Linked DNA regions of Homo sapiens. The protein of the gene in region 1 purifies or fractionates together with the protein of each later gene. This does not show direct contact. Each region holds a gene or a part of one and is shown in the gene's direction. Other genes may lie near its edges.

What was found. The genes of interacting proteins can lie anywhere in the genome.
Region 2: the proteins of ABCA3 (region 1) and ABCC2 fractionate together in Homo sapiens (co-fractionation; one large-scale study listed by BioGRID). This does not show direct contact.

Annotation. Positions count from the first base shown.
Region 1 is NC_000016.10:2,278,555-2,281,728, reverse strand, and holds part of ABCA3 (phospholipid-transporting ATPase ABCA3), read left to right. Parts: intron 1-219; coding exon 220-348; intron 349-507; coding exon 508-702; intron 703-2,598; coding exon 2,599-2,786; intron 2,787-3,174. UniProt on the Homo sapiens protein: Catalyzes the ATP-dependent transport of phospholipids such as phosphatidylcholine and phosphoglycerol from the cytoplasm into the lumen side of lamellar bodies, in turn participates in the lamellar bodies biogenesis and homeostasis of pulmonary surfactant.
Region 2 is NC_000010.11:99,827,640-99,831,139, forward strand, and holds part of ABCC2 (ATP-binding cassette sub-family C member 2), read left to right. Parts: intron 1-2,667; coding exon 2,668-2,794; intron 2,795-3,076; coding exon 3,077-3,212; intron 3,213-3,500. UniProt on the Homo sapiens protein: ATP-dependent transporter of the ATP-binding cassette (ABC) family that binds and hydrolyzes ATP to enable active transport of various substrates including many drugs, toxicants and endogenous compound across cell membranes.

The DNA of each region.
Region 1 (3,174 bases):
AGATAGTTTATGTCTCCTGGATGCTAGTTTAGCCCCGTAAGACCACTGTGTCTTCTAGTAAAAGGTCTGAGTCGCACCTGTGGGGCCTGAGATTGGGACGAGAAGCCTTGAAGGCCTTAGTCCCACCAGACCTCCCACATCCACCCCCGCCCCTCCCTTCTCCACGGAAGCCGCCCTGCGGCTGGGTTCACGCATGCGGTCTTTGTCCTGGTCAATCAGACAGAATTATACACCCGGATGCCTGTGCTTCCTGAGGACCAAGATGTAGCGGACGAGAGGACCCGCATCCTGGCCCCCAGTCCGGACTCCCTGCTCCACACACCTCTGATTATCAAGGAGCTCTCCAAGGTACCCTTGCAATTTGGGGTGGAGTCCTTCCTGCCAGCTGACTACCTGGCTGTCCCCAGGGTCCGACCCCATCCCTGGAAGCTTTCGGCGCTGAGGCTCAGACTGCTCTGCTTTGCGTCCAGGCCTCCGCATTCCGTGTTTTCTGTTGGGTGCCTGCAGGTGTACGAGCAGCGGGTGCCCCTCCTGGCCGTGGACAGGCTCTCCCTCGCGGTGCAGAAAGGGGAGTGCTTCGGCCTGCTGGGCTTCAATGGAGCCGGGAAGACCACGACTTTCAAAATGCTGACCGGGGAGGAGAGCCTCACTTCTGGGGATGCCTTTGTCGGGGGTCACAGAATCAGCTCTGATGTCGGAAAGGTGGGTGCAGCCAGGGAGGCTCTGAAGGGGTGAGACAGGCATGGCTGGAGGGGGCACCCTGGAGGCAGGGACAGAGGGATGCTGTCCCCAAACAGCTGCTGCATCTGTGGCTTGAAATGGGCCCAGCACATGCCTCTGGACAGCGAGACAAGGTAATGAGCTAAAGCTAAGCTTCGCCAGAACTAGCAGGTGATGGGAGGGGAGAGAGATGGGTGCCAACATCCGTGAGCCCAGAGAGGCGCATTCAGCACTGACAGCCACCTCTGTGCAGAGGCCATTCTGTGTCCAGGCAGCTCAGGTGTGGGGTTAGAGGCCTTGCTGAGTGAAGGGATGGAAGGCCCTGGGCCCGCCCAGCTTTCCCATGTTGAGCTGAGCCCCACCAGCTCCCCCGCAGAAGGACCAGAGGCAGCCCTCCTGCACCTCTGCCCGGGGCCTGCATGGGAATTCAAGTGTGCCAAGCAGAGCAGGGGAAATGGTAAGCAGGGCCTGGGGCTGAGAAGTGGCCGCGGAGTCCTCTCCTGAGCTCACACCAGGGGTGCCTGGACAGCAGAGGCCCTGGGCCAGAGCACATGCAGGCCCTCTCGGGAGGAAAGCCTCATCCTAGGCTGCAGACTCCCCCATAGAGGGTTCCAGGGCTTACAGGCAATGCACAGCAAACAAACAGAGGAGATGGTACCATGGCTGGAAGCAATAGACACAGGCCCCATGGGGGGACAAGCACATAGGCGTTAGATCTGCATCATCAGGCCAGATTATAAAAGATTATAAACTCACTGTGTCTACAGAAATAAATTATGCAATTGAAAATCTATGCAGGGGAGAGAAAACCGTATGTGATCTAGCAATGGAGGAGAGGGTGAGAAGTCCCCAGTACATGTAATCTGAGTTCCAGAAGGAAGAGAGAGAGAGAGTGGCAGGGGGTAGTAGCCAAAAAGGTAGTGGCTAAGACTTTCCCCAAACTGATTAAAAACAGATTCTGGGCTGGGAGCGTGGCTCACGCCTATAATCCCAGCTTTGGAAGGCCAAGGCAGGCAGATCACTTGAGGTCTAGAGTTCGAGACCAGCCTGGCCAACATGGCAAAATGCTGTCTCTACCAAAGAAAAATACAAAAATTAGCAGGGCATGGTGGCAGGTGCCTATAATCCTAGCTACTCGGGAGCCTGAGGCATGAGAATCACTTGAGCCTGGGAGGCAGAGGTTGTAGTGAGCCGAGATCATGCCACTGCGCTCTACCAGTGTAAGGGAGACAGAGTAAGACTCTGTCTCAAAAAAAAAAAAAAAAATTCTGGAAGCTTGAGAACCCCAAAGAAGGAAGGTAAAGAAAAAGAAATCCAGTCTCTGGAATCCACAGAACCCAGGCACTCCTGCCCCCGACCAGCTGCTGAAGGTAGCTAAGCAGATGGCAGCAGGCACGTCTTAATTCAGCTGGACGTGGTCACTTGTGCAGAGAACAGCTGCTGCACCATCTGACCAAGCAGTACTCACCCCAAACGTGGTGCCCACAAATCTTTCTTCTTAGAGGGAGAAGAAAGAGTCCTAGCACATCAGATGTCCCAGGTGTGAATGAGTGGGTAGCCAGCTCTGAGTCTGCTTCTACGTAAAGGCCATTCTTGCACCACCTAACCCCATGGCTGCCTGTCCTGGACCAGGCTCTGAGAGCAGCTCTGGAAGCCTCCCTGCACCAGGCACATCCTTCCTGTGTCCCTGTTCCAAGAGCTTCCACTGTGGGCAGCCACCACGGCCTGTGCATAGCTCCAGCGCCCCCGTGTACACACACTGGCAGGAACCACAGACAGGCGCAGTGGTGGGCACCTCAAGGGTAGTCCCCGTGGTCCTCTGGAGGAAGGAGGCTTCCCTCCAACCCGCCTCCCTCCCCGGCTATGCTCCGACCCCAGGTGCGGCAGCGGATCGGCTACTGCCCGCAGTTTGATGCCTTGCTGGACCACATGACAGGCCGGGAGATGCTGGTCATGTACGCTCGGCTCCGGGGCATCCCTGAGCGCCACATCGGGGCCTGCGTGGAGAACACTCTGCGGGGCCTGCTGCTGGAGCCACATGCCAACAAGCTGGTCAGGACGTACAGGTGCACCTCCCGAGCCCTGGCCCTTCCCAGAGTGGAGTCAGAATCAAGGTCCCCATAGCATAGAGCTGGGAGTGACCGCTCAGGTCAGCAGCCAGAGCTCCTGCTTGTGGCTCCAGGATGGAGCTGGGATGTGGTGGTGTGACCCAGGTAGCTCCACGTAGGAAAGGGACTGCCCTGACAGTGCCTGCCACCTAGGGACAAAGCCAGCAGTGAGAGATGTCAGGGTCGGCAGGTCCCCTTTAGGTGCAGGCAGATGTCTTCCCATGTAGGTGCGTGCACCGGGCCCCTGGGAACAGCCTTCTCTGGGGCCTCCAGCCCTATGCGGTGGGCTTTCCAGGTGCACACACAGCTCCTTCCTCTTCACTAGGGCTGTTCTGCAATTGCTGGG
Region 2 (3,500 bases), on another chromosome or scaffold:
TCTTTTAGATCTAAAGTTCCTTGTTCTGGAAACCATGGGCAAAATTGTTCTATTATTTGAAATAGCTTGATTAGATTTTTTTGTAGATACTTTAACTCCCCCTCTTTTTAAAAGAATTTTAATAAAGCTGAGATAAGAGGCATATTTACTTTTAATTTTACTTTTAGTTTGCCCCATTATTACCCTAGCTTCTTCCGAGCTCACAAGCTTACCGTACGGCTGACTGTATATGTACTCGGGATCTCTCGTCGACTTGTGCTCAATGACCACGCTCGAGCGTACCTTCACCCTAGAGAAAAGCCTCCACGTTGGGCACCAGATGAAGGGGTGGGTTGCCCCTCCACACCTGCCTGGAATGGAGGGTGAAGTTCCCAAGGAAAGAACAGTGTCTAATGCTAGAGTTCTCTGAGTTATTGCTCAGTCAACCACATCACCATGGTTACCGTAAGAAAATTGGGCAGTTTTCCCATACTAATGGTAAACATTTTTTTCTGATTAGCCTGGATCTGAGTTTCTGGATTCTGTTATAAACCACTTCTCCTTTGAAGAATCCTGTCTTTAATGTACAAAGAACAGTTTGCAAAACATCCCCGTAAGCCCTTTTTCTGGTGAACACTGAGAGAACATTTCTGAGCAGTTTTGTAAGCTCCAGAGCCTAGGATGCTGCTGTGTTGGCCCTGGGATCTGGGACTTGGTGGAATGAAGAGAAGGGCAGGAGGGCAAGGTGAGCTGCACTGAGATTGGTTCTGTGTATGAGTTTCCTAATTAGCTGCCTTAACAACACATCACAAACTGAATGGCCACACATTTCTGGAGGCTAGAAGGGCAAAATCAAGGTGTCAGCAGGATTAGTTCTTTCTTAAGGTGTTAGGCAATAATCTGTTCAAGGCCTCTCGCCTAGTTTCCGGTGGTTTGGTGATCTTTGTTGTTGCTGTTTGTTGTGGTTGTTCTTCCTATATGTTTGTTTCATTTCCTGAACTAATTCTGTTAAGTCTGTATTCTTTGTCATTGTCATGTGTGACCACTGAAGTCTGTTTGGTTGGCTTAGTGGTCAGCTAGTGATTAGACAGATACTCCCTTAATTGCTTTGAAACAATAAGTGTCTCAGCCTTTGCTGAGAGGTTCTGTGTGTGTGTTGTGGGTGGTGGGGAGCATGTCTTCAGCACTCCAGCAATTTACATCTCTGCCTTAGCCTTCACTTCCTGCTTATACAGAGCCACATAGTCAGCCGGAAGTGAAAGATTAGAGCCCTCTTCCATCTTTCCTGGACATGTGCACAGCTCTGCATGTGTAGGTGGCATTCTAGATTGCTGGGAATATATCAGAGAGATCAGAGACCCTGTGAGCATCTTATTCCCCAGCTTTTCCTTTTAAGTTTTTGGTCAGCTTCTTATTTGCCCCAAGTGTTATCACCACCTCAGGCAGCTGCTGTGATGTTAAATAATTGCTGCTGGTTTTTTGAGCTAGCTCAGTGTTAGGTCAAATAGGCCCTATAAATGGGGGTTTTCAGAGAATTCCAGATAGGTGAGATAATGTCAGTTCTCCAGGGATGGGGTTTTTGGGAGCATTCTGAACCCACTCTGCCCCCTCCAGTGGCTGCTAGGCTGCTGGTTTTCATGGCTGCTATGATTGTATGGCTGTTAGTTTTCTAGGTTATAGCAGCCAAGGAGAGGGGGGACAGAAATAGGGTAAGTTAAACTGCCACAAAACTTACTGTTCTTACTAAGTTTCAGCTCTTCAAAAACACAAATGCTCCTGGGATTGTTGCAAGCCTTTGGTTAATTTCAGAGCTCTGAAAAAGTTGACTTTGACCATTTTTAATCATTATTCTAATTGCTTTTATGGAGGAGTAGATATCTGGAGGTTCCTATTCTACCATCCCCACTGATGCCCACACTGTGTCTTATATTTTATTTTATTTTATTTTCCGGGTATGTCTTTTAAGTGATTTAAATTAATATAAGTTTGTTAAATTATTTGAATTTCAAGATGAGCATTTTCTTTTCTGTTTTGAGAGAGTCTCACTCTGTTGCCCAGGCTGGAGTACATTGGCACAATCATGGCTCACCTTCAACCTCCTGTGTTCAAGTGATCCTCTCACCTCAGCCTCCCAAGTAGCTGGGACCACAGGCATGCACCATCACACCCTGCTAATTTTTAAATTTTTGTAGACATAGAGTTTGCCTATGTTGCCCAAGGTGGTCTCAAACTCCTGGGCTGAAGTGATCCTCCCACCTTGGCCTCCCAAAGGGCTGGGATTACAGGTGTGAGCCACCACGCCTGGCCAAGATGAGCATTTTCAATTTACAATCACTTCTTTAGTCAATTCTGAGAATGTGACTCTTCTATTTGTCTACCATAATCCTTAAAAGCTCTTTCCTCCTCCAAAGGAACCTGGGCATTTCTAGGAATTTTCTTCTCCATTTTGACCATTTTCTCTTCCAGTGGAATATTAATTCATCTCTCCTTTATCCTGATATTTCTTAATAACAAGATGTACTAATAACTATGTATGGAGTATTTATGGAGTAAAGTATTCCATGCTGTATGTACATCTGGGATCCCTTGCTGAAACCAGCAAGATCAGAGGAGGCTTCTCTCTCCTTGTTCATAGGACTGACAGGGATCTATGCAGCTCTTTCCCTAACCTCTACTGTGTCTCCCTAGTCCATGATGGCAGTGAAGAAGAAGACGATGACTATGGGCTGATATCCAGTGTGGAAGAGATCCCCGAAGATGCAGCCTCCATAACCATGAGAAGAGAGAACAGCTTTCGTCGAACACTTAGCCGCAGGTTGGCTATCTATTCAGCTGGCAGCCCTCGTCAGCTCTATATTTCCACTTGATCTTTTTCTTTTTCTTCCTGGGCTTTTCCTGTGAGGGTTAACACCATGGACACTCCAAGCTCTTCCTTTGTTTCTTTGTTGTGGGGATGGGGAAAGATCGGGGTTGTGTCAGTTTCCCCTGGTCATCTGCCCTGAAATGCGCTTTGATGCCAGCTGAGTGACTGTGACATCTGCTTGCAAGAAGACCCTTGGGAATTGCCTGCATGCTCAGGGAAGCTTCCCTCTCTCAGTTCTAGGTCCAATGGCAGGCATCTGAAGTCCCTGAGAAACTCCTTGAAAACTCGGAATGTGAATAGCCTGAAGGAAGACGAAGAACTAGTGAAAGGACAAAAACTAATTAAGAAGGAATTCATAGAAACTGGAAAGGTGAACACCACACAGAAAAGTAGCATTTGAGGTGTTATAAGGTTTAGAACCCAAAATTTTTAACGTTCAGTGAAAATTGAACGCATACTTACAGGAGCAATATGTCCTCTGTCCTTTGCAAATCTTCAGACTCATTATTAACCTGTTAGCAGAGGCTGTGGGCTTTCTACCAAGTCATATTTCCATAAAGAATGCTATGTTTCCTGTGAATGTCCTCATCCTACACTTCATGAGTGTTTGATTCCATTCTGATGTGTGGAGGAACAGGAAAACTCAGACCTAGAGCAC